Regions from separate parts of the Homo sapiens genome. Here regions 2, 3 and 4 are each linked to region 1. Evidence: fine-mapped expression QTL. A gene starts in region 1. Each other region holds a variant in brackets. All regions are shown on one strand. Distances are from middle to middle.

Region 1 (8,258 bases):
AATCGGCACTCTGTAAAATGGACCAATCAGCAGGATGTGGGCGGGGACAAATAAGGGAATAAAAGCTGGCCACCCCAGCCAGCAGCATCAACCTGCTCTGGTCCCTTTCCACACTGTGGAAACTTTGTTCTTTCACTCTTCACAATAAATCTTGCTGCTACTCACTCTTTGGGTCTGTGCCACCTTTAAGAGCTATAACACTCACCGCGAAGGTCTATGGCTTCATTCTTCAAGTCAGAGAGACCAAAAACCCACCGGAAGGAACCAACTCCAGACACACTCTTCCTTCAGTCTTTCACAACAATGTAGTCAGAACGATCCTATTACGCCATTAAGTCACATCATGTCACTCTTCTGCTCCAATGATTTCCCATCTCAGAATAAAAGCCAAAGTCCTTCCTAAAACCTGTGAAGTTGTACATGATTTGTCCTCCCCTGATCATTCTGATCTCATGTGCAACTATTCAACCACTGTGGCCTCCCTGACTGTTCCTCAAACATACCAGACATCCTCCCATCTCAAGGCCTTTGAACTTGTTTCCTCTGCCAGGAATGCTCTATGCTCTTCCTACAGATACCCTCATGGCTAGCTCCTTTACTTTGCTCCTGGCCTTTACTTAGTCATCTTCATAAAGTTATCTCGGCACCATCGCTAAAATTTCAAACCCTCCTCCTCACACCACATAAATATTCCACAGTCCTCTTCCCTGTATTATTTTTCTTTTTTTTTTCATTTGTGACGGAGTCTCACTCTATCACCAGACTGGAGTTCAGTGCCACAATCTTGGATCGCTGCAACCTCCAACTTCTGGGTTCAAGTGATTCTCCTGCCTCAGCCTCCCAAGTAGATGAGAGTACAGGCACATGCCACCATGCCCAGCTAATTTTTGTATTTTTAGTAGAGATGGGGTTTCACCATGTTGGCCAGGATGGTCTCAATCCCGACCTCATGATCCATCCGCCTCGGCCTCCCAAAGTGCTGGGATTACAGGCCTAAGCCACCGTGTCCAGCCCCCTGTATTATTTTTCTTCTTAGCACTTACCACTACCTAATGTAGTATATATTTTAGTTATTTACTCTGCTTATCGTCTGCCTCCTGTGCCATGTAATCTCCATGAGGGCATAGCTGTTTATTCACTACTAAATCCCCAGCACCTAGAACAGTGTCTAGAACATAGTAAAGGCTTAATAAATATTTGAATAAGTGAATGAATGAATAGGCTTGGAATGAACAAGAAAACAGAATAAATAAGAATAGCTAATTAGGCTGAGCACAGTGGCTCACACCTGTAATCTCAGCACTTTGGGAGGCCCAGGCAGGAGGATCCCTTGAGCCCAGGAGTTCCAGACCACACTGGGCAATAGTGGGACCCCAATTCTTTTTTTTTTTTTTTTTGAGACAGAGTCTGACTGTCGCCCAGGCTGGAGTGCAACGGCACCATCTTGGCTCACTGCAACCTCCACCTCCCGGGTTCAAGCGATTCTCCTGCCTCAGCCTCCTGAGTAGCTGGGATTACGGGTGTGTGCCACCACGCCCAGCTAATTTTTTTGTATTTTTAGTAGAGACGAGGTTTCACCATTTTGGTCAGGCTGGTCTGGAACTCCTTACCTCATGATCTGCCCACCTTCGCCTCGCAAAGTGCTGGGATTACAGGTATGAGCCCACACCCAGCCAGTGGGACCCCAATTCTACAAAAAATTTTAAAAATTAGCCAGGCGTCGTGGTGCACACCTTTTCCCAGCTATTCGGGAGGTTGAAATAGAAGGATCACTTGACCCCAGGAGACTGAGGCTGCAGTGAGCTGCACTCCAGCCTGGGTGAAAGTAAGACCTTGTCTCAAAAAACAAAACAAAAAAAACAAAACTGCAGGTAAAGAGCTGCAGCTCAAGCTCCAAGAGAAACCTTGGCACATTAGTGATGTCTCTGGCTATATCAGCATGTGGTTGAAACAGGTTAGTTACTTCTGGAATCTTCACAGAGGAAAAAAAAAAAGAAAGAAACAGGTTAGCAACTATTACTTGAGACTGAATTAATGCTCTCTGTAAGGGCTGAGTGTTCCCTCCAAGCTCACCATCTATTCTGAATCAATCAAGAAAAAAAATGGAGGGAAATAAAACCACAAATGAAAAACATGATTTTTTTTTTCTTTTTTTGAGATGGAGTCTCACTCTGTCACCCAGGCTGGAGTGCAGCAGCACCATCTCACCTCACTGCAGCCTCCACCTCCCAGGTTTAAGCGATTCTCCTACCTTAGCCTCCCAAGTAGCTGAGATCACAGGTGCCACCAAGCCTGGCTTATTTTTGTATTTTTAGTAGAGACGAGGTTTCGCCGTGTTGGCCAGACTGGTCTCGAACTCCTGAACTCAGGTGATCTGCCCGCCTGTGCCTCCAAAAGTGCTGGGATTGCAGGCATGAGTCACTGCGCCCAGCCAAAAAACTTGATTTTCTACCCATTATGAACCATGCTTTAGCATGAAACTTACTATGAAGCAAATACCAGAAGTCATAGCTAAGGCTAGAATTTTGAAGTAATGCTATGCAGACAAGAGAAATCAAGGGATCTGTCAAATCTGCTACTAATTGATTGTATGACCAGGATCTTTCTGAACCTGTTACTTGTACCTCTGTTAAAAAAAAAAAATCACTACTATCCAAGTCACCCTCCACTAGCTTTTTTTTTTTTTTTTTTGGAGTCTCGCTCTGTCGCCCAGGCTGGAGTGCAGTGGTGCAATCATGGCTCACTGCAATCTCCGCCTCCCAGGTTCAAGTGATTCTCCTGCCTCAGCCTCCTGAGTAGCTGGGATTACAGGCGCCCACCACCAGGCCCAGCTAATTTTTGTATTTTTAGTAGAGTCGGGGTTTCACCATGTTGGTCAGGCTGGTCTGGAACTCTTGATCTCGTGATCCGCCCGCCTCAGCCTCCCAAAGTGCTGGGATTACAGGCGTGAGCCACCACACCTGGCCGGGAAAGTACTTTTTTTTTTTTTTTTGAGATGGAATCTCGCTGGGTCCCCCAGGCTGGACTGCAGTGGCGCAATCTAGGCTCACTGCAAGTGCCACCTCCCGGGTTCACGCCATTCTCCTGCCTCAGCCTCACGAGCAGCTGGGACTACAGGCGCCCACCATCACGCCTGGCTAATTTTTTGTATTTTTAGTAGAGATGGGGTTTCGCCGTGTTAGCCAGGACGGTCTCGATCTCCTGACGTCGTGATCCGCCCGTCTCGGCCTCTCAAAGTGCTGGGATTACAGGCGTGAGCCACCGCGCCCGACCGGAAAGCACTTTTAAAAGCATAAAATGCCATACACCATACAAATGCAAGAAGTTAGTAAATTCTGAGTTTGTTAAATTATTGTTCACTATTAAGATTTATTAAAAATAATGTTCTTTGGGGGAAACTTTTAAATTTTAAAAGTTTTTAGAATTAAAAGTCAGGATGCAGAGATTTCTCTTTTAGGCCCCAAATTAATCGAAAAAATATTTCACTAGTATATTTGCTTCAGAGAAATAGAAGTGAACTTTCACAAGTCATTAATCTATTGCTCAAAATAAAATGATCACACACAAACCGAAAATCAAAGCTTCAAACATACACACACCGAAAATCAAAGCTTCAAACCAATCTTTAGCGGCTGCATATCACTAGTTGCCTGGGGTTGGGAGAGAATGACTGCAAAGGGAAAGGAAGCTTTTTAGAATGATGGAAATGGTTTATGTCTTAACATGGATGAATACATTTTTCAAAACTCATCAAAATGTACATTTTAGATAGGCACAATTTACGTATGTACATTACACCTCAATAAAGTTTTAAATATTTAGAAGTCTATCCTGTTTCCTTAAAAAAAAAATTAGTTGCACCATGGTCTCAAAAATAATTTTTAAAATGAGATGTAATGCAACAGACTTGAAGATTAAATAAAACAGTCTTGAATATTTAAGAAAAATGACAAAACATGAGTCAAAAACAAAAAAAAAGGGTTGATTTATGAGTTTCTGGCCTCAAGGTCAACTCAGATTAGGGGGAAAAAAAAACAGTGGAGGCATAATCAAGATGGGGAAGCGTGTGGAGAGAAATCTCAGCTTCTACTCTAGAAGACGAAAACCAAAACCGGTATTACTTCAGAAGGCACACTGGAAAAGCACAGATGTGGGTGCACTTCAGACCTAGGTTCAACGGATCTAAGCTGCTAACTCTATGGCCCTGAGAGTCCTCAACCTGTGAGCCTCAGTTTCCCTTTCTGTAAAATAAAGATAATGATGGCTTAGAGTTTAGCTGAGCACACAGCAAATGCTCGACACATAAGTAATACATGATATTACATAAGGCACCAGAACTCGGAGCTGACTGGAAATGCATGCAAACTAAAGCCCTCCCCCAATCCCACCCCAGTTTCCCTCTGAGGGTCGTGATCCCTTTCTTACGCCTTATCGCCCCCAGCCAAGCCTCCCTTCCTTCCCACATACACTCCACACAGCCTTTTCACCCCTCGCCCCAGCAGCTTCAGAGGCCTCCCACCTCCCAGGCCCCACCTCGTTGAGGAAGCGGGTGACATCGTAGACTCGCCCATGGATCACAAGCCACAGTTCCTTCAAGGAGTTGCGCTTTGCCACCTCCTCCAACCGGTAATAGGTGACTGAGGTCTCGACTTCCTGCCCTTTCCCATCGCTGCCGCTAGCTTCCGCAGTCGCCATTGAACCGGACATACTGCCTCTCCACCGCTAACTGAGATTCCGCGACTACTTTCCTTGAGAGCCCGCGCTCAGCCTTCCTCGGCTTCCGTAACCAGGGCCCATAAGGCCTTGAGACGGTTCCTAGCAACAGCCAATCACACTTCCGAATAGTTCCTGGTTCGTTTTCTTTTCACCAATGAAGGGAGTGGCTCAGTTCGAAATCCCGCCCACTCCTCGCCCGATCCTCCAGATGAAAGTCTGGTTCGAGGTCCAACTAACCAATTAGGGTCGTTCAGCCCCCTCCAACCTCGCCAATCAGATACCGCGATTTTTGGACTGGCGCCCAAAAGAGGCGTGCTGACAGGTGTCACTTCAGGAGAGGTACCACTTCTCTCAGCCTGTGGGCCTTTAGGGTCTCCAGTGTTCTGCTTCCCTTCCCATCGCTGTGGCTTTCTCCTGAGTCTCAGAAAGTTCCTATCCCCTACACTACCGGCGCAGCCTGTATCCCAACCCTGATTTTACATCTTTGCTGCCTCCAGGTCGTGATCTGGCCAATCCCGTCTCTCCTCAATTTCCCCATCAGTAAAATGGGCTTGATAAAGCACTCTCTTACAGAGGGGTTTGCCTTTTTTTTTTTTTTTTTTTTTTTTGAGACAAGTTCTCGCTCTGTCTCCTAGGCCAGAGTGCAGTGGCACGATCTCGGCTTACTGCAAACTCCGCCTCCCAGGTTCAAGCGATTCTCCTACCTCAGCCTCTCGACTAGCTGGAACTACAGGCATGCGCCACCACGCCCGGCTAATTTTTGTATTTTTAGTAGAGAGTAGGTTTCACCATGTTGGCCAGGCTGGTCTCGAACTCCTGACCTCAGGTGATCCGCCTGCGTAGGCCTCCCAAAGTGCTGGGATTACAGGCGTGAGCCACCGCGCCTGGCCCGGTTTGCCTATTTTAATGAGAGTGCCTGTAAAGCGCTTGGCGCATAGTAATCGCTAAACATGGCAGTCGATTAGAAAGGCAATTGCTGTCCCGGACAGCAATTGGGGGTAGAATGTGGAGTATCCTATGTTTCTACCATCATTCAGAATCCGATTTTCAAACGAATTCTGTGATGATCAGGATCAATCGGCACTATTTTAGTCTCTACGTGATCTAAAATAGAATTGAACTCAACTGCTCTCCGCTAGAGGTCCCAGCACTTTGGAATTCCAAGTTTGGTTAAGGTACAGTGTTGTGCGCCACTTTTTAACTGCCATTACAACTGACAGATTGCTCTTCCTATGATGTCGTCGTTTTCATCCTGTCACTCTCGCAGTCTACCATTCAGGGCTCTCCACAATCCATTCGCAACCTCTTTCACTAACGTATAATATTTTCCACCATTCCCTTTATAAGCCTGTTGCACCCGCCCCGACTCTGAAACCTGCTGGTTTAAAACCACATCCGTGGTCATCCCAGGTCCACCAAGTTAATTTTAGATCACTTAGAGACTAAAATAGTGCAGATTGATCCTGATCATCACAGAATTCATTTGAAAATCGGATTCTGAATGGTGGTAGAAACATGGGATACTCCACATTCTACCCTCAATTGCTGTCCCAAGGACTCCTCTTCCTTTCAATGCCTACCGGCTTTTCAAGTTCCTCTTCAGTTTCTTCTATTTTCAAACTTCTCCTACCGTTTTGAGCTCCAGTGCTTCCATCCCTTTGTAGTACCTAAGAAAGCATATTACTATTTTGGGAAGCCTGCTACGTCTGTAAATTTTAACTTTACGTATTTTACCTCCCTAGTTAGACTGACACTATGAGAGCAATCTCACAAGATTCTTAGGATCCTCCACAAACTCTAGATTCAAATATTTACATTTATTCCAGACATTTACTATTTACTGTTACAAGTCTTATGATAGGCATTGGGAGTAGAGAGATAACATAAGAAACAAAATCTCTGAAAGAAATAAAAACATTTACAGGCTGAATGTGGTGGCTCAAGCCCCGTAATTCCAGCACTTTGGGAGGCCGAGGTGGACAGATCACTTGAGCCCAGGAGTTCAAGACCAGGCTGGGCAACATAGTGAGGCTCTTGTCTCTTCAAAAAATACAAAAATTATCTACGCATGGTGGCACACAACTGTAATCCCAGATATTTGAGAGGCTGAGATCTGGGGATGGCTTGAGCCTGGGAAGTCGAGGCTGCAGTGATGTATGATCGCACCACTGTGCTCCAGCCTGGATGACAGAGCGAAACCCTGTTTCAAAAAAATAAAAATAAATAAATAAAAATAAAAAATAAAAAAATTACAAATTCTAGCACTTAAGTGATATATACCTGTAACATTATATTTGAAAATGTTTTTAGAATTTCAAATAAGTAAGTTACAAGAATAATACAATGAATGACCATATACTTTTAGCTTAGGTTTACCAACTGTTAATATTTTTCAATATTTGATTTTTTCCATATTATTTTGATCATTGTTGTTAATAATGCTGAACTATTTCAGATATCACCACCCTTTACAGCCAAATAATTCTACATGTATCTTCTAAAAATAAGAACATATTGTCACGTAACTGCAGTATGAATTTCAAATTCAGAGAATTTAACATTCACACAAAATTATTATCTAACATACTCTCCATATTATTTTCCATTATTGCATTCATGTCCTTTGTGAAATTTTAGTGTGCCTGTATGACCCAGGATCCAGTTCAGGATCATGTATTGCACTTAGCTAAGTCTCTTGAGTCCCCTTTAATCTAGAACATTTCCTTAACTTTGCTTTTGCTTTCATGACATTGACATTTTTAAATAGTATAGCCTCAAATTGAATTTTACACTGAAAAATTATTGTGACCTAAATGTTTTGGTTATAAATTTATATTTACAATTGATAGCACATGTTAGCCAGAAAGTCTGGCTTGGAATACCTGTCCCTGCCACTCACAAACTTGGTGACCTTGGGCAGGTTTCTTAGCCTCTTTTTTTCCATGTGGATACCCACTTGTTCCTGCACCATTTGATGAAAACACAATTCCCCCTTGAATTGTTTTCCTGTATCTGTCGAAAATTGATTGATCATATAAGTGTGGTTCTCCTTCTGAAATTTCTACTCTGTTCCGATGACTTATTTGTTTATCCTTGTGCCAATTCCACAGTCTTGATTATTGTAAGGCACTAAATCAGGTAATATAAGTCTTATAGCTTTGCTCTTAACTTTTGAAAATTATTTTTGCTATTCTAGATCCTTTGTATTTCCACATACATTTTTTTTTTTCACTCTCATCACCCAGACTGGATGGAGTGCAATGGCACAATCTCAGCTCACTGCAACCTACACCTCCCGGGTTCAGAGTAGCTGGGATTACAGGCCCCCACCACCACACTTGGCTAATTTTCATATTTTTAGTAGAGAGGGGGTTTCACCATGTTGGCCAGGCTGGTCTCAAACTCCGGACCTCAGGTGATCCGCCCACCTCGGCCTCCCAAAGTGCTGGGATTACAGGCATGAGCCACCATGCCCGGCCCCACACACAATTTAAAATCAGCTTGTTGACCAAGTGATCAAATTAAAACATCTCCATAATAAA
Region 2 (7,114 bases), 35 kb before region 1:
CATCATTGAACCAATAAGACACAGTAACATAATTCTAGTAACCTACTTCTCAATGAACACACATCTGAGAAAAAAACCGCCAGTATTTTATTCTCATGGAAAAACAGAACAAACCCACAAGTTGGAGTCACGGAGATAAAATACAGATGAAATGGAAAACGGTCTGTTGTCATGAACTCTCACTTTCAAATACCATTTTATATGGAAGTTACTTTACTGCGGGGCAAACAGAAGGCCATGCTGGAGTCTCTTACTTTTGGAAAATGGAGAATCAAAAATTTGCTAATCAACAAACAAAAAAGGAGGGAAACTCCTTGGTAAAGCTCTACAAACATAATTATACATTTATATTTTACCAATAAAAGATAGCTAGGGTAGAAAAAACAGATGGTTAGAAACTGGTGCCAAACCAAAGTGAAAGCTTTGGTGCCTTCTCTAAACTCCTATCCTGTTTCTTTAGAAAACACCAGTTTTCTAAAGAAAGATTACTCTGAATTCACCAGGGTTCTATCACCCCAATTCATCCCTACCTTTCCACCCCCAAGACACGAAAGGGCCATGTAGTTTTTTGTCCGGCACCACTTGGGAAGGGGCTGGGCTCAGGGGCTGGGAAGAGCTACCTGCTGCCCTAGCTTGAAAGGGAGGAGGTGGCCACACCATTCTTTGTATTTTTATCACGCACATAAAAGAACAAAAATCATTTGGCAGTTTTAAGTTTAATAGGTGCAAACCTTTACTTCAGGAATTAAACCCCTTATGATAAATAAAAGAATTAAATCAGATTTTTTTTTAATACAGATAGGGGTCTCGCTATGTTGCCCAGGCTGGTCTTGAACTCTTGGCCTCAAGCGATCTTCCCACCTTGGCCTCCCAAAGTGCCAGGATTACAGGCCTGAGCCACCACACCTAGCCCTAAATCAGAATTTTTTAAAAAAAATTTACTTAAAAGAAAAATGGAAAAATAAAACTTTCAACACTAGACTGCCGCCCTGTTAAGAATGTCTAATATGCAATCAAAGTATTGGAAAGCAGGCATTTTTACCAAAGAGCAATGTCACTATAACTTATGAACAGAAAGTTGTGAAATATAAGGGTACTCATGGAAACCAGTGAAGAGAGGAAACACCGGCAATTGTTCAACACGGAACAGTGAGCAGGTACTTTGGGAGTAAGGCTCTGAGAGATGGAAGACGCTGGTCTCAGATCTGAGGTGATGTCTGGCCAATCGTCTTGGCTCCAAGGGGGAAGAATGCAACTGGCAGGATTCGAGGAGAGGGCACTTCTGCAGCCCCCAAGCAAGTCTCTAGTTTTCGCCCCAAAGTGGATGCACTTTCTAACTTCAGCAAGGCCTCCTCAGGAGGATTTGCTTTCCGATGTGTAGTAGCGGTACAGGAAACCTAAGAGAACAGCGCCTATGATGGGTAAAATCCAATATGCCCAGCAACTAGGAATAGGGGGAGAAAGCAATAAAGTTGTTAATATTTTAAGCCAAATGTTCACTATCTTTCAGCTTTCACATGTTTTTATATAGGCAAGGAGTTTTTATTTACTTTGGGAAATTTAACTGCTTTTATCACAAAGTAGTTGGGGAAAAATATTTGAATTGGAGTGACAATATTACAAAGTAATTTTTTAAAAGGTTAAAAACAACCAATAGTATGATATCAAATAAGATGTCTTTAAATGCCTCTATATGTGTTTCTACAAAGTCATATAGTGGTTATTTCTGAGTTAGGGATTATGGATACTCTCACATTTTCTTCATTGTGCTTTTGCTTTTCACGTATTCTACAATTAAACATTTTTAAACAGGAAAAAACACCATTATGTATGTGACATTTCATATATGTATAAAAACATATCCATCCCAATATAAATTTGGAAGTAATCATATCTAATATAACTACCAGAAATATCCTATCTGCTTCATATGTATTTTAAAGATTTAATCCTTATGAAATAGGATAACCTACGAAATAGGGTTATTATTCTCATCTCATACAAGGGAAATATAAGCTTTGCACCCCAAATCCCAAAGCTAGAAAGGCAGCTGGACAGTCTGATTCCAAACCCATCCTCTTAATCCCTAGTTAAGTTTGGACACTAATAAGGATACACATACACACAAAGCATATACAGTTCTAACAGGGTGAAGCAAATGGCAGCTTCAAAAGTACTGCAAGAGACCTTCCTTAGGAGCTTCAGAACAGTCATCATTCTCCTTAACATAATAATTCTTTAATAGAACTTATTAGCACACTAGTTTTAAGGTATAATTCTTCCATGATCCAAATGACCCGGCTGCCCCTCTACTTAAGACATATGAGTCTTGGTATTAAAAGGTTTTGAAGTCAATAAAACGAGCTGAAGTTCATAAGAAAAATGATTCTCTTTGCCTAAACATGCCTAGCACTCTGTATGCTTACGTACAGCAGAAAGCTACTCTGGACTAGTTTAGAATATCAGCCAGGTAGCTTTGTTTACAAAACCAAGCAATATGGCACGTATAACAGCAATATGCACATGGGAACTCTGAAGTAATCTCCTGATAAGAGTAATGAATTCAGACTCCTTGAAGAGTAACCGCAAGAGACTGAAGAATCCAAAAGTAGGATCCTTGAGAAAACATTGAAGGAGAAAATTTCTTTCTTTCTTTCTTTTTTTTTTTTTTGAGACGGAGTCTCATTGTCACCCAGGCCGGAGTGCGGTGGCGCGATCTTGGCTCACTGCAAGCTCCACCTCTGGGGTTCACGCCATTCTTCTGTCTCAGCCCGTCCTCGTGATCCACCCACCTCGGCCTCCCAGTTTGCTGAGACTACAGGC[A/G]TGAGCCACCACGCCGGCCAGAAAATTTCTTTAGTACAAAAGACTGAGAATGGTTGACACCAATCCTCACATAATCTTTCCTAATACTTAACTGCCACTGAGGAGAGAACCAGAGGAAATACATTTATACTGCATCACAGGAGATTCAGGTTCAACAATAACTTCCTACCATAAGACAGATTTTTCTTCTTGGAGATCCATCTAGACTACTACATGTTTGTGATTCCTTTATTTTTATTGTTTTGTAGTATTCCATTGTATGAATATACCACAATTTATTAGGGTTGTCTCTGATGTTTGAATATCTCGAATAACACTGCTATGAACATTCTTGCATATATTTCTGGGTGTACCTGGGCACACATTTCTATCAAGTATATCATTAGAAATGGAATTGCTGGGTCAAAAGTTAAGTCATCCTATCAAATTTACTAGATAATGCCAAACTGTTTTCCAAAGTGATTATACTCATTTACATTACCCTAGGAGTGCTTAAGAGTCGGTGATAAACTTTCCAACCAACTCTTATTTGCAAAATTTTTAATTTTTACCAATCTGGTTAGGTATGAAATATACCTATGATTTTAATTCACATATCACTAATGATGAATGAGATTAAACCTCATTTCCATATGTTTACATTTGTGTTTCCTTTTCTGTAAAGTGCTTAAATCTTTTTCTCATATTCTACTGAGGTTTTAAAAAACTGATTTGTAGGAATTCTTTATATCTTCTACCTAATAATTCTTTATCAGTTTTATGCTTTGCTTAAGTCTAAGTTTTATAGCATAAGCATAAGGTTTGGTTTTTTTTTTTGAGATGGAGTTTCGTTCTCGTTGCCCAGGCTGGAGTGCAATGGAGCGATCTTGGCTCACTGCAACCTCCACCTCCCAAGGTTCAAGCGATTCTCCTGCCTTGGCCTCCCAAAGCTCGCACCACCATGCCCAGCTAATTTTGTATTTTTAGCAGAGATGGGGTTTCGCCATGTTGTCCAGGCTGGTCTCGAACTCCTGACCTCATGATCCACCCGCCTCAGCCTCCCAAAGTGCTGGGATTACAAGCGTGAGCCACCGCGCCCGGCCCTGCATAAGCATAAGTTTTGTTTAAAATCTGCAATTTTGTGGCTTGTATTTTCAAAATTTTTATGCAGCATTTCGCTGATCCTAAGCCCTTAATATTAAGGAAACTAAATTTACTAATAGTTTGTAATTTTTTATACTGTGTCCGTTACCTCAAGTAATAGATCTGATACTTTATGGGAAAAAAAGACATATTTTCTTTCTCTGAAATACTTCGAGATGTCCAAAAAATAGAATGGCTAGCTCTATATAATCTCCACAAAGATACTGTACAAGCCAAGGATTCCACAGTCATTTTAGATAGAGGCACTTAAGGTAAGGCAATTTATAACTTTCAGAGCTAATACTAATGAATTACTAATATTAATGCCAAGGAATATATTGTAAATAAACCTGAGAAAACCCAAATTCCTAAATATGACCGTAGTATTTTTTTCTCCTGCAATATGTAATAATAGCACTTACCTTACAGAGTGGTTGTGAGAAGTAAATGCGATTAAGTTTTAAGTAGAATCATGTAGCTGGGTTGAACTTCGGGACTAAAGGCTGACCCAATAGTAGCTACCTGTCCATGCATCCTGGCCTCTTACTGAGTGTGATTCCAATTTATGTCACAATAAGATTAAAAAATGACTCAAGGCATGAAACTTTTAGATTATTCAAAATGGCTGAAACTGTAAAAGTTAATTTTTCTAATGTCAAGGAACAACTGAATTTGCAATGATTTGGGCCAAAAAAGAATTAGTTGTCAAACTGCACTCATAAGTTATGTTACATACATATACTTATGGAAGAGTCTCTTGCCAGACATTACCTTGAACGTATGGAAAGCTGTTAAGGAGATACTAACCTTTTGCATGTATCATTTTTTGAAGGGTCCTGAAATAAAAAAAAAAAAAAATTCAAAAATAACAAACAAAAAGAAAGAAGATTAACATAGCACATGTACATTTTCTTGATCAAGCTATGTCAACCCTGTAACTGATACCAGAACTTCATCTTTCATGCATTTTGGTGTTTACAAATATATAAGCAATGGATAGACTGGGAATTTTATTTCTGATAACATACTGGCACTTCACTAGGTTCCTTCCTAGTGAAGAATCACTAATGAAAGCATAGAAATGACCTAAACTTTTTTAGATGTTAAAAAATGTTAATGATACAAACTATATTGAAATGGACTACTCTGTGGTCATGATGATGTACCTGGTTCAGCTGGGCTTGCCACTGGCAATAGCTAACATCACACTTTCTAAAAACATTTTTTAAAGTCCAAAAAGCTCTTCTAACATGTAGATCAACTGTGAAATGCTCTAGATCATACAGATGATTGCTTGTAGATCACAAAAATATACTGGTTCACTCCTTGAAATCATAATAATTATGACAGGAGACCTTAGAATTGATTTCACAATGAAAAGAGAAAAAATGGAGTCAAGGGAAAGAAAATGATAAAATAATCTTAAAAAACAAATCTTGGCAATAAAAAGTACTGAAGTATTGATATATGCTACAAACTTCACAGCATTATCCTAAGTGAAAGAAAGCAGACACAAAAGACTACATATTATATAAATCTGTTTACATAAAATGTTCACAACAGGACAATCAATAGAGTTAGAAGTAGATTAGTAGTGGTTGCCTAGGGCTGGTGTGAGGAGGACGAGTTGTGGGGAAATGGAAAACGACTGCTAATGAATATGGGGTTTCTTCTTGGAGTGAGGAAATTGTTCTAAAATAGACTGCACAGTTCTGTAAATACACTAAAAACCATTGATTTGTACATTTTAAATAGGTAAACTGTATGGTATGTGAATTGTATCACGATAAAGCTGTTATTACAATTTTTTTACTCAATTCAAGTATCAAACGAGTTATTGATTCCATTAACCAGCTGTATAGTACAAAAGGCCTGCTAACTTACTGCCAGAGGACAATAACCCTTTAGCATAGGTTGCTGCTGCCCAAAATACCATCTTTGCAAAATGTAGAAGTATATCAGGGTATGAACATGGAATATTAGCTCTGCTTAACCACCGTTTTCAATAATCTCCAAGAATTTCCAGAAACCAATCACATTGGCCCCAATATACTTTAGAGCAGTCCATGAAATGAGTTTTAATTTCATATATCCAAAACACTGTCATGCAAATGAATACATGCCCCAAACCTGAAAGAAATTAGTCTGTAGGCAAGAAAAATGGCAAACGAAAGGTTTTAAAGAAACCATATTAACATACTTCTATACTTCTTTAAGACTTTAATGATTATCATTATCTGGGACATTTCAACTAGTCTAGTAAGGATCCGATTAATTAAAATGAGTTACAAGTCAATCTTTGAAAAATACAACAAATGTTACTATCTACAGATTCGGAAGGTAGGAGTGGTAGCGATGGTAGTATGTGCATCAAGTTAATTTATAATGCTGCCTTTTAAAATAAATATTCCACTACAGTAACCGAGAAATAATTGAATTCCATCAAGAAAATGTTCATGGTCTTTTATGCTTTAGCTACATAAATACCAATGATTTATAGACAAAAAATGTAGTTACTATTTTTAAAAGGGATAATTTGAAAGGCTTATATGAGAGCATCACAGCATAATATATGTATTATGATGTTTAATCTATAATTAGAGTAAAAATCATATACTTCATATAAATGGATTCTCTAAATTTCAAAGCTTTTAGCCTCTTTTACAATCAAAAGCCCTGGATCTCTGCTAAGTAGGGTGAGCCTTAGAAAAAGGTAATAAGCAACTGAAGAAGAAAGAGAACAAAGACAGCCAAAACCGTACTATGCTGAAATGTAAAAATTTCTAAACAATAAATAACTTAAAACATATGGTGTTCTTTGAACTAAGTACTGCAAAATGTGCCTGTTTTAAGATCAATCCATCCCTGGGGACGCAAAAAAAAGACCAACCTGTCTAACCCATTAAAGGAAAGAGAAGAGAAAGAGGCATACACTCCCTTTAGGATACTGATAGCCAAGTAGATGCAAACCATAGTGACCCCACTTTTAATCAAATACATAATAATCAAAGAGATGTTGAAGGCACAGCTCTTAGCAGCCAGGACTCTCAGCCAAATTTGGAAATAAACCAAATCGCTTGTTTTTAAACTGAAATGAAAAAAGTTCTATTAACACATAACCTCCCTTCACCTCCACCCTTCCCCTAGGCACAGTTCCCCCCAGTCTTCA
Region 3 (8,258 bases), 21 kb after region 1:
ATCAATTGAGGGGGGAAAAAAGTCAGAAGATGGATTATCTTCTGATGAAGGCTATAGGCTGTAGAATGTGGCTGAGTGTGTCCTTGTATCCTAATAAGACAGACTGTCCCATCAGTCACAAGCAGCGGTGGACCGGAGCACCCTCCCATGTGGAGGGAGAGAATTTGTGCTCCCTTCTTGATCCTCAGATACCAGGAAGAGGAAGACACGGCAACTCATGCCCAGTTTCTCCTGGGGCTGGGAATATGCTAATGCTCTCCTTTCCCTATGTGCAGGAGTAAGGGCTGAAGAGGAGGCTGGAGCGTTATAGTAGTTGATGGCCCTTCACACCAAAGGAAATATCTGGAGTAGGAGGAAGCATTTTCTTCTCCAAAAATTCTTTTTTTTTTTTTTTTTTTTTTTTTAAGAAAACAGCCTTGCTTTGTCACCCAGGCTGGAGTGCAGTGCAGTGGTGCAGTCTCAGCTTACTGTAACCTCCGCCTCCCATGTTCAAGCAATTCTCCTGCCTCAACCTTCCGAGTAGCTGGGATCACAGGCGCCCGCCACCATGCTCGGCTAATTTTTGTATTTTTAGAAGAGCCAGGGTTTCACCATGTTGGCCAGGCTGGTCGCGAACTCCTGACCTCAAATGATCCACCCGCCTCGGCCTCCCAAAGTGCTGGGATTACAGGCATGAGCCACCGTGCCTGGCCCCAAAAGTCTTACTATTTCTTGGATTATACAATAACTTTGAGGATGTGAAGCAAGCTATGAACCACCATCCAAGGAAAATGCACGTAGGTCTTGTCATGGACTTTTGTATCCCTTTCCCTGTCTTCTGGTTTCTGTAGCTCCAATTTTTCTTTTAGGAACTGTTCCTCTTCCATTCTGTGTGAAGTAGTGGTGCTGCCAATCAGTATGCTCCGCCTTCCCTTGGTGACAAGGGTTGGGCATGTGATCCACTCTGTCCAATCAGAGAAGCCTGTTCTCCTAGCCCTATTGTTTCAGGAATAGGCATGTGATTTAAAGCAGCCAATCAGGGAAAGACAACTCAGGGAGGCGTGACATACTTTCCTTAAGAATACTGACCAGTTTGGGCAGGGTGGCTCATGCCTGTAATCCCAGCACTTTGGGAGTCCCAGGCGGGCAGATCACGAGACCAGGAGTTTGAGACCAGCCTGGCCAACATGGTGAAACCTCATCTCTACTAAAAATACAAAGTTAGCCGGGTGTGGTGGCACACACCTGTAGCCCTAACTCGGGAGGCTGAGGCAGGAAAATTGGTTGTACCCGGGAGGCGGAGGTTACAGTGAGCAGAGATCATGCCACTGCACTCCAGCCTGGGCAATCAAGAGAGGCTTCATCTCAAAAAAAAAAAAACAAAAAAAAAAACAGGGCTGGGCACAGTGGCTCAAGCCTGTAATCCCAGCACTTTGGGAGGCCGAGGCAGGTGGATCACCTGAGTTCGGGAGTTCGAGACCAGCCTGACCAAAGTGGAGAAACCCCATCTCTACTAAAAATATAAAATTAGCTGGGCGTGGTGGCGCATGCCTGTAATCCCAGCTACTCAGGAGGCTGAGACAGGAGAATCACTTGAACCCGGGAGGTGGAGGTTGCCGTGAGCCGAGATCACACCATTGCACTCCAGCCTGGGCAACAAGAGCAAAAACTTTGTCTCAAAAAAAAAAAAAAAAACTAACCTGGAGAAAAAGTAAAGGTTAGACTCTCTGTAGATGTTTTTTTTTCTGCCAAGTAGAAAGAATCAGTCTGAAGAATGGAGCCCAACAAAGCAGAAATGTGTCTAATTAGTGAACACTTGAATCTAGTCATCAATGAAATCTGGTCTTCTGGTTACTTGAGCCACTAAATTCACCTTTGCTTTTGCCCAAGCTGCTGGAGGTAGGCTCCTGTTCTTTGGTATGTGCACACACAGAACTCGGCCTCCACTTTCCAGAAGTGCTAACTATGAGCCCAGACCTGCCTTGTATGTTAAGAGCCCCCTCTGTGAGCGGTGCCCATTATGAATTTGAAAAATGATCATCTATTCTAAAACATTCAAACACATCTTGCTGCTGCATTTGGGGCAGCAATACTTGCTTCTTCATGTTGGCACCGTTTCTGCCTGTCAGCAACTTGGAAACCATACTGAAAATACAGGCCGGAGGGCATGTAGCTTAAGAGAAAACAAGTCTCATGGGTGTGTTACAATGTAGGAAATGCTAGCGAAAGTGTCTACCAGAGGATAGAGAGGTTAAAGTTCGGCCACCCTCTTTTTCTTTATATATAATGGGTGAGAGTTGGAGGTGGGAAAGGGAGAAAGAGAATCCCACCCAAACCAAAGAGGATGTTTGGACAAGTTAATCTGCGGAAAGCTCTAGAAATTTGATGCAGGGTGATGAAAAAGCTGTGGCATGATAACATCTAGTGTTTGATTAAGCCTTTCCTCTAGGCTGGATGTCATACTTAGCACTTTACATACATTGTAGCAATTCTAGTGGGTACTATTGTTATTCCCATCTTACAGATGATGAAACTAACACTGAGAGGAGTTAGAAACTTGCCCAAGGGTCCTGCTGGTAGAGCCAGGATTTGACATCAGGGCATTCTGAACCCTATATTTGCTAACCACTATGCCCTTCCTTTCTAGCTAAAGACCTGGGTTTGAATCTAGCTCTGTTACTTGCTGGTTGAGTGACCTTGAGCAAATCAACCTCTTTGAGCCTGTTGCCTCATGTAGAAAATTCAGGGAGTAGGCCGGGCGTGGTGGCTCACACCTGTAATCCCAGCACTTGGGAGGCCGAGGCAGGCAGATCACAGGGTCAAGAGATCGAGACCATCCTGGCTAACCAACATGGTGAAACCCCATCTCTACTAAAAATACAAAAATTAGGTGGGCGCAGTGGTGCATGCCTGTAGTCCCAGCTACTCAGGAGGCTGAGGCAGGAGAATCACTTGAACCCGGGAGGCAGAGGTTGCAGTGAGCCAAGATCGAGCCACTGCACTCCAGCCCAGGCAACAGAGCAAGACTCTGTCTCAAAAAAAAAAAAAAAAAAGAAGAAGACAGAAAGAAAGAAGGAAGGAAGGAAGGAAGGGAAAATTCAGGGATTATACTAAATAATTTGTTTTCTCTCTTTCAACTCTAACATTTCAAAAATTATAATATCCCCAATCCCCCAAACTAGGATTTGTATTCCTGGCTTGAACTTTTTTCGCTCAAGACCCTATAGATTGGTTTTCCCATGGATTTCGGATCAAAAGCTTCCTTTGAATTATGTATTCCTTTGAAACGGATTCAAATGCAGGGGGATCTGAAAAGACTTCATCCTTGCTGAGTGAATCAGCATCCCGTGAACACAGGTGACAAGTTCTGACCCATCCCTTCACTGTCTGATAAGCCCAAAGGTCATGCTCTGGACTCAAACCTACTCTTCCTTCTTCCTGCCCATTTTGTGGGTTTTCTGATAAGGTGCCCTAAGGCAGCTGTAACACTGTTTTCTCTCCCTACAAACACAGTCCCCAGGGCGTGCACTCTGCCTGCAAACTTCCCAGCTGCTTCCAGCTCTCCCTCTGCCCACAGCCCTTTATTGCTGCATTCCAACAAATTAGCCATGTGACAGATTATTTTTAACTTCAATAGAGCAGCTCCCTCTCTTTTAATATATCATGCTTGGCCCACATTCCCTCGGTGAAAAGGGCACCATCGGCTACTTCTGAGAACTTTTAATTACTCCAATTGTTTGCAAAACTCTCTTAGAAGCTTGGGAAAAAAATATTGCAAGCTACAGTTCTGATTACAAGAAGAAAAGAAAATACATTTCTTTCTCCGTTCCTCTCCAGTCCCCTTACTCTCCAGTTTTCTTATTTAGTGGAGACCTGGGAATTTTCCAGGTCTTCTCAAATCCCCTCTACCCCCCTGCCACCCATTATCTAAGAGCAGGTTTTTTTAAGTATAAGTCCATCTCGAAAAAAGCTAAAGAAAAAAAGTAATAAAGTGCAAATCTAATTGGGAGGAAGGGAGGGCAGTTTCCTGAGTAACAGAGACCCCCACCCCGATCCCACACAGAACCCTAGCAGGTGAAGGATGGCAGCTCCCAAAGCACTGAATGCCCAGCCATCCTAGGTCTTGGAAGTCTCCAAGAGGGTCCTGGAGGTTGAGCTTGACACTGAGGTTGAACCTTCTATCTTGAAGTCAACTGCACGTAAACAATGAGCATCTCAGTAACCACCGCATGGGCCAAAGGCCCTTCTCCAAGTTTTCTGAACTTTCTAAATCCCAGATACTTCTCTAATTTCTTTTTCTTTCTTTCTTTTTTTTCTTTTCTTTTTTTTTTTTTTTTTTTTT[TG/G]AGATAGAGATGGAGTTTCGCTTTTTCGCCCAGGCTGGAGTGCAATGGCGCCATCTCAGCTCACTGCAACCTCTGCCTCCCGGGTTCAATCGATTCTCCTGCCTCAGCCTCCCGAGTAGCTGTGATTACAGGCGCCCACCATCACGCTCAGCTAATTTTTGTATTTTTAATAGAGACGAGGTTTCACTATGTTGGCCAGGCTGGTCTTGAACTCCTGACATCAGGTGATCCACCCACCTCGGCCCACAGGCATGAGCCACTGCACCTGGCCCATATAGTGTTCTATTGCTAATGTAAAATAAAAAAATAAAAGGAGGGGAGAAAATATAAATGTGTTATTTTATTTTTAAAATTTTTTTGGAGACAGAGTCTCATCCTGTCATCCAAGCTGGAGTGCACTGGCACGATCTCAACTCACTGCACTTTCCACCTCCCGGGTTCAAGAGATTCTCATGCTTCAGCCTCCCAAGTAGCTGGGACTACAGGCATGCGCCACCACACCTGGGTAATTTTTTGTATTTTAGTAGAGACGGAGTTTCACTACATTGGCCAGGCTGGTCTTGAACTCCTGAGCTCAGGCAATCTACCCGCCTCTGCCTCCCAAAGTGCTAGCATTATAGGCGTGAGCCACCATGCTGGGCCTGTAAAGACAAGCCTGGCCAACATGATGAAACCCTGTCTCTACTAAAAATATTTAAAACATGTTATTTTAAACATGTACAAAATATCTATCTAGGGGAAGGTATTCTAGGAACTGGTAGAACTGGGGAAGGGAACTGGGCAACTGGACAACATAGATGGGGAAACAAATTTCACTTTATACTCTTTGTATCCTCAGAATTTTTAAATTATGTGAATGCATAACCTAATCCAGTATAATTACATTTTTTTTAAGTTGAAAGGAATATTTGGCAGTATTTCCAAGCACCTGGGCCCTCGAGATATGAGAAACGCCCACCATTTATGAATTGGGGCAGGAGGAAAGGGCCAGATCCCAGCTGTCACTCACTGTAGTCATGAACCGAAGCCATAGCATCACTATAGTAAGATAAAAGAGGTACCAAGAGGACAGGAGGAAACAAAATCAGTCTTGAGTCACATATGGGCATCATGGGTATTTATAAAAGGCTTAGACGGTTCCTTCCTAAATTTGAATTTATGTCAAGAGATAATCATTTCAGGAAGTGTGAGTTCCTCTCTTCAAACTGTTTTGGACAATCCCATTCTGATATGAGCTGCATAGAGCCAAGCTCATTTATAGGGAACATCTGTGTGGGAGGAAGGGGGGGAGTGGAAGAGCATAGAAAAGAGACCTCCTGAAGCTGAACTTGGACACCTCTTGTGTCTTTTCCTGGTTTCCTTTGAGTTGTACATTTGCTTGGTTGTGTGACAAGGAAGGTCTATGAAACTTTTATGGTCCATTATGTGGGTTTATGTATATAACATGAAAAAGTGACACGTGGAAGAGGAGTTTCACTGAAATCTGCACTCTTTTTGTGAATGTCTGTGTTCCAGAAGGTTCCTAGAGTTGTTGGATGATGGCTCTGATTACTGACTCCTTTTGACCACTAGTCAGGCAAAAAAAAAAAAAAAAAATTTGGCTTTGAATAACAAATTTATAATTATTCATCTTATTTCACAGTAAGCTACCCCTTTAAAAGTCTACCATTATTTTTTTTGTATTTTTATTAGCATTTAATTACTAGTGAATATATGGTAATACATTCTTCCCTTTTGAAAAAAATTAGAGCATTGCAGACAAAGTTTTGGTTCTCTTTAATCACTCCCCACAACGCCAGTTCCTTTCTCCCTTCCTCTAAAAAAATCACTTCTAGGAGTTTTGAGGCTATCCTCACTGACTTTTCAGTATACTTTTGCATACATATAAATGTACTCATAGAAAATAAACATGTAGTATTTTTACATGCATGTTTTTAAGAAAACAAATTATATTCTATATATTATTCTGCAGTTTGATTCTTTTCACTCAATAATATAATATTGAACACTTTATACGATTATTATAGATAGTCATTCTTTTTTTTTTTTTTTTTTTTTTGAGACAGGGTCTCCCTCTGTCACTCAGGCTGGAGTGCAGTGGCATGGTGTTGGCTCACTGCAACCTCCACCTCCAGGGCACAAGTGACCCTCCTGCCTCAGCCTCCCAAGCAGCTGGTACCACAGTCACATGCCACCATGCCCTGCTAATTTTTGTATTTTTTGCAGAGACAGGGTTTTGTCATGTTCCTCAAACTGGTCTCAAACTCCTGGGCTCAAGCAATCTGCCTGCCTTGGCCTCCCAAAGTGGTGAGGTTATAGGTGTGAGCCACTGTGCCCGGCCCTTTTTAACTTTTATACAATATTCCATTGTGCTTGGCTATTTCTCTTTTGATAGGCATTTAGATTAATTCCAACCTTTGTCTACTATAGACAATGCTTCAGTAAACTTTTTTTTAATTATACTTTAAGTTTTAGGGTACATGTGCACAACGTGCAGGTTTGTTACATATGTATACATGTGCCATGTTGGTGTGCTGCACCCATTAAGTCGTCATTTAACATTAGGTATATCTCCTAATGCTATCCCCCTCCCCCCACCCCACAACAGGTCCTGGTGTGTAATGTTCCCCTTCCTGTGTCCACGTGTTCTCATTGTTCAATTCCCACCTATGAGTGAGAACATGCGGTGTTTGGTTTTTCAGTAAACATTCTTGTACAGTTCTCATTATACACACATACAAGTACCTTATAGTCAATAAACATTCGGTCGTGCAAATAAAAAGTCAATATGCAATCTTAGAATGAGGTTTAGGTACAATGAAACTCTAAATTTACCGTTTAAAAATTGTCATCATCGTGGGCATTTTGCACCTCTGTAGATTATTATGGTGTGGCCCTGAGACTGGGGCTTGTGGAAGAACTGACTGAAGATGTTTCCTTGGCCAGGGAGAGAGAGAGAGAGCTGTAAAACACCCTTGTGAAAGGTAGGGCTGGGATACTCAAGACTGTGCTATCTAACACAGTAGCCACTAGCCACAAGTGGCTATTTAATTTTAAACTTAAGTGTGTTAAAGTTAAATCAAATTAAAAATTCAGTTCCTCAGTTATAGAAGCCACATTTTAAGTGCTCAAAAGCCACATATAATCAGTGGCTACCATATTGAGTGCGAATACAGAACATGTCCATCATTAAAGAAAGTTCTGGCCAGGCGCAGTGGCTTACGCCTGTAACCCCAACACTTTGGGAGGCTGAGACAGGTGGATCACCTGAGGTCAGGAGTTCAAGACCAGCCTGGCCAACATGGTGAAACCCTGTCACTACTAAAAATACAAAAATCAGCCGAGCGTGTTGGCAGGCACCTGTAATCCCAGCTACTCAGGAGGCTGAGGCTGGAGAATCGCTTGAACCTGGGTGGTGGAGGTTGCAGTGAGCCGATATTGTGAATTCAAGTCAGGCTCAGTAGCTCACGTCTGTAACCCCAGAACTTTGGGAGGCCATTTGGAAGATTGAGGCAGGAAGATCACTTGAGCCCAGGAGTTCAAGTCTGCATTGAGCTATGATGGCACCACTGCACTCCAGCTTGGGTGACAGAGTGAGACTGTCTCAAAAAGAAAAAGAAAAAGCAAGTTCTGTGGGACAGTACTACTCCAGAAGTTATTTTATATAGTCCTATCTAGTAGCCAATTTAAAATTTCCTTTCCTGAAATGTAATTACTTCCATTATTACTAAACCTTTGATGAAGTATTTTAAATAATAGTAAGAGCTAACATTTATTGAATGTATGTATTGGTTAGTTTTCTTTGTTGCAGAAAACAGATTTCACTCTTGCTAATTTAAACATAAAAGGATTTATTAAGGGGTATGGATAGCTCATGGACTCATTAGGGAAGTTGAAGAAATAGACACTAGGATAAATATCCAGGAATGACTTTCA
Region 4 (8,258 bases), 26 kb before region 1:
TGCACTCCAGCCTGGTGACAAGAGTGAGATTTCGTCCCCCCACCAAAAAAAAAAAAAAAAAAAGAGAACAACAAAGAAATGTCTCAACTGGCAACCACATAGAAAGGATGTGGGGGTCAATGGGTGTGGATTTCACGATGAACTTTGTTTATGAGAAAACATGAGAGAAGAGCACACACTTAAGGAATGGAGTGTACTTTGTCATCAGGACATAAATGTAGGAAAGAATGAACCAGAATCATGATTATGACGCATTACGACAGACAGGGAAGCCGGGTGCAGTGGCTCATGCCTATAATCCCAGCACTTGGGGAGGCCGAGACAGGCGGATCATGAGGTCAGGAGCTCGAGACCATCCTGGCTAACAGGGTGAAACCCCATCTCTACTAAAACTACAAAAAAATTAGCTGGGTGTGGTGGCACACACCTGTAGTCCCAGCTACTTGAGAGGCTGAGGCAGGAGAATCACTTGAACCCAAGAGGCGGAGGTTGCAGTGAACCAAGATCGTGCCACTGCACTCCAGCCTGGGCAACAGAGTGACACTCTGTCTCAAAAACAAAACAAAACAAAACAAAAACCCCAAAAAACAGGGCATTATACCTTCAGCCTATACAGCTTACATTTAGGCTTTCAAAAGCTTAAAAGGCAAATATAAGGTATATAAAGACTTTATGTTTTAATTCCTACATTGCTATTCCAAGAGGATTCTAAGTATTTAAAATTGGAAAAAGTAGATTTTAAGCCACAGGACACCTTTGGCAAATGTAATGGGTATTTAGGTGGTCTGGTAGAGACTGTGTAGCTTTGAATTTGGAACACTTTGGTATCCCTGTGGCCAGTAACTTATGAAAAACAAGTTGGGAACTTCTGGCTTCAAATTCTAAACTGGAAAAGATTTCTCCCCCTTAATACCATGGACCTTATAGCATGAGCTAACACTATATGAATTTTAATATTAGGTTCATTTTACCACCTAAAATGTTTTGAGTATTGAAGGTATATGATTTCAGCATTTTACAGTCCCAACTATGACACAGTCATGTGGTATGGATCTTGAGGACAGCCTTCTCATGAAGCTCCAATGTACTAAAATATTCAAGTCAGTAAGAACCATTTCTTTCTGGATGTGAATATAATTTAACAATTACTGCCTTGCAAAGTATATAATCCTAGAGTCAAACCGTTATATAAAAAAATTTCCCTGTAGATATGGCAAAATTCAAAGATGAAAAACAGCCCCTAAAACAAATTGCTATAAACTCTCTTAAGAACTCATTGTGATAAAATATATAACACCTCACTCAAGAAAAAAAATTAACACATTCACAGGATGATCTCTATCAGGACTTAAGAAGTGAAAAATTTGTTATAACATTGGAGGGCTGATTTGAAAAGAATGTTTCCTTACCCTTCTGAACCCTGTTTTGCAAAACTATACATCATTTCTAAGTAGAGCTTTACCAATAGAAGACATTAGTCCTTGAGAACCCTCAGCAAAGGGTATTTTGTCTTTCAGGAGTAATTTTGTCATCACATTCTATGCTTTCTTTCAAAAGATTATGTTACAAAATATAAGTGTATATGAAAATGGGAAATAAGCCAGGTGCAGTAGCTGGTGGCTCATGCCTGTAATCCCAGCACTTTGAGAGGCCAAGGCAGGTGGATCACCTGAGGTCAGGAGTTCGAGACCAGCCTGGCCAACATGGTGAAACCCCATCTCTACTAAAAATACAAAAATTAGCCAGGCGTGGTGGTAGGCGCCTGTAATCCCAGCTACTCAGAAGGCTGAGGCAGGAGGAGAATGGCTTGAACCCAGGAGGCGGAGGTTGCAGAGCCGAGATCGCGCCACTGCACTCCAACCTGGGTGACAGAGCAACACTCCGTTCCCCCGCCCAAAAACAAAACAAAACAAAAAAACACACAAGAAATCAGGAAATAACCAGACAAAATTCTCTGGTAAATAGCAATCACTGCTTGTCTAAAGGGCATCAGCATCCCATTCCAAACTTTAATAAATTAGGTAGTAGGTATGGTAGGGATATTAAATAATTCTTAAAAATAAAATTTTTAATTTGATGTAATCAACTAACTATATTTCATAATTATAAACAATATATTCCTTTTAGTTTCTCTCATAAAAGAAGTAAACTGTATGTTACATAATACATTATATAACAGAAAACTGTATGTATAATAAAAGTCAGTAGCATCTGGGAGAAAAAATGTAACTTTAAATGCAATTAATAGACTGCTTCTAACATGTAAAATTTACTAGATTTCATAAGTCAAGCTTCTTAAGTTAAAAATGAAGTTAAAAAAACACGTTAAGCCTCTATGGAGACAATTTTATTTGTTTTAAAAAACAGATCAAATCCTTCGAAAGCAAATGTCATCACATCAACACTTTCATCTATGGAATACTAAATATCTACTTAAAAAATGAGAAAGATCTTTTTTTTTTTTTTGAGACAGAGTCTCGCTCTCTCACCAGGCTGGAGTGCATTGGCACAATCTCGGCTCATTGCAACCTCCGCCTCCCGGGTTCAAGCGATTCTCCTGCCTCAGCCTCCCGAGTAGCTGCGACGACAGGTGTGCACCACCACGCCCAGCTAATTTTTGTATTTTTAGCAGAGACAGGGTTTTACCATGTTGGCCAAGATGGTCTTGACCTCGTGATCCACCCAGCTGGGCCTCCCAAAGTGCTCGGATTACAAGCGTGAGCCACCGCCCCCAGCCCAAAAGATGTTAATAAACTGACAAGAAATAATGATGAATAAAAAAAAAATTTTTTTTGAGACAGGGTCTCGTTCTGTCACCCAGACTAGAGTGCACTGGCACAATCTTGGCTCACTGCAACCTGTGCCTCCCAGGTTCAAGCCATTCTACCGCCTCATCCTCCCATGTAGCTGGGACACCACCATTCCCAGCTAATTTTTGTATTTTTAGTAGAAACGGGGTTTCGCCATGTTGGCCGGGCTGGTCTCGAACTCCTGGCCTCGTGTGATCCGTCCACCTCAGCCTCCCAAAGTGCTGGGACTACAGTCGTGAGCCACAGTGTGCAGCCAACAAATAAAATTTTTAAGTAAAGAGAAGCAAGGTGAAGAATAGTATGTATGAGGCTTTTTACCTTTTTTTTTTTTTTTTTTTTTGAGGCGGAGTCTCGCTCTGTCGCCCAGGCTGGAGTGCAGTGGCGCGATCTCAGCTCACTGCAAGCTCCACCTCCCGGGTTCACGCCATTCTCCTGCCTCAGCCTCCCGAGTACCTGGGACTACTCAAATTTTGGGCCTCCCCAAATGCTGGGATTACAGGCTTGAGCCACCGCGCCCGGCCAGCTTTTTACTTTTTTAAAGGAAATGATGGTTGGTTTGTCTGTCTATCCATCCATCCATCCTTATGAATGCATGGAATCTTTGGAAGAGTAAACAACAACAAAAAAATGATGGCTGGTTACCTCCAGGGAAGGGGAACTAAAAGTCTCAGAGCTGGATATACGAGGGAATTTTTTTTTTTTTTTTTTTTTGAGACGGCGTCTCGCTTTGTCGCCCAGGCTGGAGTGCAGTGGCGCGATCTCTGCTCACTGCAAGCTCCACCTCCTAGGTTCACGCCATTCTCCTGCCCCGAGTAGCTGGGACTACAGTTGCCCGCCGCCACGGCCGGCTAATTTTTTGTATTTTTAGTAGAGACGGGGTTTCACCATGTTAGCCAGGATGGGCTCTATCTCCTGACCTCGTGATCCGCCCGCCTCAGCCTCCCAAAATGCTGGGATTACAGGCGTGAGTCACCGCCCCCGGCCAACTTTTTTTATAGTATACTGTTTTGAACTATTTAAATTTTTTTTTTACCATGTACATTTTATAATACTCACTCAAAAAAAATGTAATGGGGAACAGGTCAAATTACTAGACCTATTTGACTACAAGATTTAACTAGTAAAGCAGTTGAACTATTATCTAGATAATATCTGTTGAAGAAATGAATGAAATGGTGCCCACTTTTTTAGTCAGGTTACGATTTGTATGCACTTTATCTCTTGAACTGATGGCAGATTAAGTGATAAAACAGCTAACCAAGAAGTAAATACATCATCAAAGAGAGAATTCATAGACCACGAATATTTATAGGTTACTTGCTAAAGAGCAGGCAAGCAGGCAGGCAAACTGGCACAGAGAGCACTGAGTCTGTTTCTAAGGTGAGTTTCCGTAACCAAAAACAAACCAGAAAAATGTTAAGTCAAATATAAGTAGGAGATTGACGGCTCTCAGCATGAGGGTTAATCCAGCAAGGAAGAGATTCACAAAGACAAATGGTTTTTAATTCTAGTTAGTTATTTTTGATTGAAGCGGGTTAAAAAAAAATCTGTTGCTACATCTTTAAGTTTTTAAGTCTTTACGTTTTTAGTATATTAATTCTGGGCCTTCAACTCAGGTACTATCCATCTAACAATAAAACAATGGTGACCATTAATTATTTACCTGTGTTATAAAAGTAATATGAAAGGTGTTTTCTAAAAGAATTAGGGAATGGTTACTGACTTACACTTTGGAATAGCAACATTTTGAGTGTTTCTTTCTTGGCGGGCAGTAGGGATGGTGCAGTTCAGACAGGGAGTAGAAGAAGGAGAAGAAGGAAAATGGAAATGAAAACTCTCTCCCATAGGCTGAAGATACTTTTTAATTTGACTTTTAAAAATCACTTCTTCATAAAGATTCAGAAACCATGAACCAAGAGAAAGGAAGGTAACCAATGAAATGAACTCCATTTCCATTTCTTAATGGTGAATGTTTAAACCAGATAAAGTATGGAGAAGAGAGATACCTACATCCTAGACACCAAGT[C/G]CCTATTTAAACCTCTGTAAGAAATAAATCTGAGAGATCAAGAATTTCTTCCTGGAACTGAAGTCAGGTTGGAATATAGCTCTATAAAAACCTATGTAGGTGGTCTTGAAAATGTTCCAAAAGGCCTTTCTTGCCTGATCTGCCTGAAGTAGAGCAGAGTGACTAGAAACACAATAGCCAGACTCTCTACTTAATGAAGACATGTCCCTTGAGTACAGTGACATGAGGAAAACAGGATTGAAAACACTGCCTTTAGTCACTTTTTAACCCAGATAGGGGCTAAACTACATTTGGAGACTTCTAAATTATTATAGAACTTGGTGAGCTTAAATGCTTTCTTTTTCTATCTTTCTTACAAAAAAATCTAAGGCTCAATAGTTTTTTGGGTTTTTTTTTTTTTTTTTTTTTGAGATGGGGTCATGCTGTGTTACCCAGATGGAAGTGCAATGGTGTTACCATGGCTCACTGCAGCCTCAAACTCCCGGGCTCAAGCTATCCTCCAGCCTCAGCCTCCCCAGTAGTTGGGACTGCAGGCACACATTATAATGCTCAGCTAATTTTATGATTTTTAAAAAATAGAGACAGGGTCTCACCATGTTGCCCAGGCTGGTCTCCAAGTGCTGGGCTCAAGCCATCCTCCCATCTCAGCCTCCCAAAGTGTAGGGATTACAGGCGTGAGCCACTGCACCTGGATGGCTCAATAGTTTTAATTCAGCTGAGAAATCTCTAATCCTTTGGCCTATAGAAGGCAGACAATGCTTACCACAGAAGAGAATTAAATTTTCCTAAGTTTTCAAATGAAAAGATGGGCATATCATTCAGCAAAAAGTTTGGGCTTAGCTACCTACTTATCACCTAGATTACTTAAATTGCAAATTCCTAAACCCTATCTCCAGAGATTCCAAAGCAGTAGGAGTAGAAGCCCAAGAAATAAACATTTCCTATATATATTCATGTACATACCAAGGGATTCCAACTGAGGTGATACAAGAACAGAATTTGGGGAACATTGTTCTACATTCCTAAGAATGGTCCTAACTGTACTACCAAGAAAGAAAAACAGCAACAAGAAGCAATCTGTAGACTTCTAGACATTGTAATTGCAAACATATTTTTTCTATTGTTTTAATATAAAAGATGCTCTCATAGTTGCTGTGCAGAAATGTGTTATGGCTCCTATATCCTTTGAATCAGATGTTGACCTCTGAAAGTGGTATTTTCTGGACATGTTCAATATACAAATCAAGGCCACGCTTCGTTCAAATTTTACCATAATAACACAAGTTATTAAGAGTAAGCAACAACAAAAAATGATGGCTGGTTACCTCCAGGGAAGGGGAACTAAGACACTGAGAGCTTGAGACAGGAAGAAACTTTTTACAGAATACTGTTTTGAACTATTTAATTTTTTTTTTTTAAGGATTCAAGAATGGATAGTACATGTGTTAGGAGGAGAGGACAAACAACCAACAGTTGTTACAAAGTGTTTTAAGAACCATTTCATTCCCCTTTCAGAAACAATTCAATAGTTCAGAGTAGCAGTCTAGCAACATGGAAGAGTTAATTTACACAAACACTCTGGATTGCAGGGCAACAGATGGCAGACACTGTTAAGCAAGCAATCTCTTGAGTTAATAGAATTCTTGTGTCTAGGCCAACTTTAATTGCTGTGTCAAACCTATTCAGTAATTTCGGCTCAATGAGGAATGGGAAGCAAGCAGCAAGGAGGAGGAAAATGGAAGGGAGGCAGCATCACTTTCCTATGTTCTAGGTGGCACCTAAACTGCTGTCCCTTTAAATTAGAGTGCTGTGTACCAGCTATCTGAAGGACAGAAATTAAGGAAAATTGTTAGGGAATAAGGGAAATGAACCACCTAGCATGTGGGAGGCAGAAAATGGTTCCATATTTTCTTCCTGGTATGCAATGTAGTACACATTAAAGTTTTCAAACACTCAAATACTTAGTCTTTTGTTTTCGCTGTATTACTAAGTAACCGGGAAGGGTGTGGGCCTGTTTGAGCCTACAGGAAAAAAGAATTAAATTTGGAAAATAAGTACAGAAAGGCCTCTGTATTACAGATAAAGAAGATAACCTATAAGAAACAAAACAACTTTGCAATTATTTTTTTCCAACACAGAAACAATTATTATCACTTGTCCTACATAATGTAAAAGTAAGATATTTTTCCACAACTGAACCCATAAACTAATTTCTTTCAAAACCACACAGGGCATAGCTTTGGAGTTTCAGTTAAAAAAAAAAAGCGTATAAAGGCATTAGCAAAATGTTTCCTACTGTTCAAGACTCAGCTATTCTTTTATTCCTGAGATGATACTGAGTCCAAATTCCAGAAAAATAGGATTTTTGCTTGGGGAAAAAGTAAATACTTTGTAACTTCTCTTGTTAAGAAAAAATGTTTCAAAAAGCAGTCCTACTTGAGTAAACACAAATATAAACACAAGACAAACCGCTGACTTCTTACCTTGCTACCACTTTCAGGTTTAAGGTCACTCTGTCAAAAAAAGGAAAACAAATAATATTTTAAGACATAGCCAAATGAATTCTCACTATATGCTTGTTTCTAACTTTGGAACATGAGACTATATTCTGGTGATAGTGAATTCCCTGGGAGATTTGAGGATCCATAGAAAGATACCTCTACTCTGAGCATATCAGAGTCCCTTGTTAGAATGGTATATATGGATAGTTTTTAAAGTCCATAATTACTACCTTTAGCAAGGAGCTTGCAAAAACAAGCAAACCACTATTTTAGGTAAAGGTGTTATTAACTGCATTACAAAAATAAATCAACACATAAAAATAATCCAGAATCAGTTCCCTTAGCTTTTTAGAGATATTACATGTGCTACCTGGCAAAGAAGAAGCTATATCCTAGCACAGTAAGACTAGACAATTTTGGAGAAAATTTAGCCTGATGGCTAGATTGAATGAATTTCCATTTTAATAATTTTTTTTTTTTTTTTGAGACAGAGTCTCGCTCTTTCACCCAGGCTGGAGTGCAGTGGTGCAATCTTGGCATACTTCAACCTCTGCCTCCCAGGTTCAGGCAGTTCTCGTGCCTCAGCCTCCTGAGGAGCTGGAATTACAAGTGTGCGCCACCACACCCAGCTAATTTTTGTATTTTTTAGTAGAGGTGGGGTTTCACCATGTTGGCCAGGCTGGTCTCGAACTCCTGACCTCAAGTGATCCGCCTGCCTTGGCATCCCAAAGTACTGGGATGACAGGTGTGAGCCACCACGCCCAGCCAATAATTCATTTCTTCATCCTGTTCTGCAGCTGTTAAGTAGTTTTCTCTGCATAAGGGCTCCCATCTCTGATAGTTCTTACCGGATGGATATCACCAATGTAGTACTGCTTTAGCATTTCTCTGGCATCAGAAGAGTGTCCTACATCTTCAAAG

The links. PIP is the estimated chance that this variant, and not a neighbour inherited with it, causes the effect. A credible set is the group of variants that fine-mapping cannot tell apart.
Region 2: its variant is the best candidate, but not a certain one, in a credible set for the expression of CYB5B in subcutaneous fat (TwinsUK, PIP 0.68).
Region 3: its variant is the best candidate, but not a certain one, in a credible set for the expression of CYB5B in neutrophils (Naranbhai 2015, PIP 0.84).
Region 4: its variant is the best candidate, but not a certain one, in a credible set for the expression of CYB5B in sun-exposed skin (GTEx, PIP 0.53).

Annotation. Positions count from the first base shown.
Region 1 is chr16:69,421,133-69,429,390 of GRCh38, reverse strand. It overlaps CYB5B (cytochrome b5 type B), which reads right to left and starts at 4,772. Exons shown (of 5, transcript NM_030579.3): 1 at 4,534-4,772. The coding sequence starts at 4,707. RefSeq lists enhancers at 4,394-4,941, 4,942-5,489.
Region 2 is chr16:69,456,760-69,463,873 of GRCh38, reverse strand. It overlaps CYB5B (cytochrome b5 type B), which reads right to left. Exons shown (of 5, transcript NM_030579.3): 4 at 4,753-4,781; 5 at 1-1,444. The coding sequence ends at 1,354. Among named protein-coding and RNA genes, the nearest start is that of CYB5B, 36 kb to the right of the region's middle. The variant A/G (reference allele first, on the strand shown) is at 2,824.
Region 3 is chr16:69,399,820-69,408,077 of GRCh38, reverse strand. No RefSeq gene overlaps it. Among named protein-coding and RNA genes, the nearest start is that of TERF2, 18 kb to the right of the region's middle. The variant TG/G (reference allele first, on the strand shown) is at 4,322.
Region 4 is chr16:69,447,206-69,455,463 of GRCh38, reverse strand. It overlaps CYB5B (cytochrome b5 type B), which reads right to left. Exons shown (of 5, transcript NM_030579.3): 2 at 8,186-8,258; 3 at 7,320-7,349. Among named protein-coding and RNA genes, the nearest start is that of CYB5B, 27 kb to the right of the region's middle. RefSeq lists a silencer at 271-488. The variant C/G (reference allele first, on the strand shown) is at 4,837.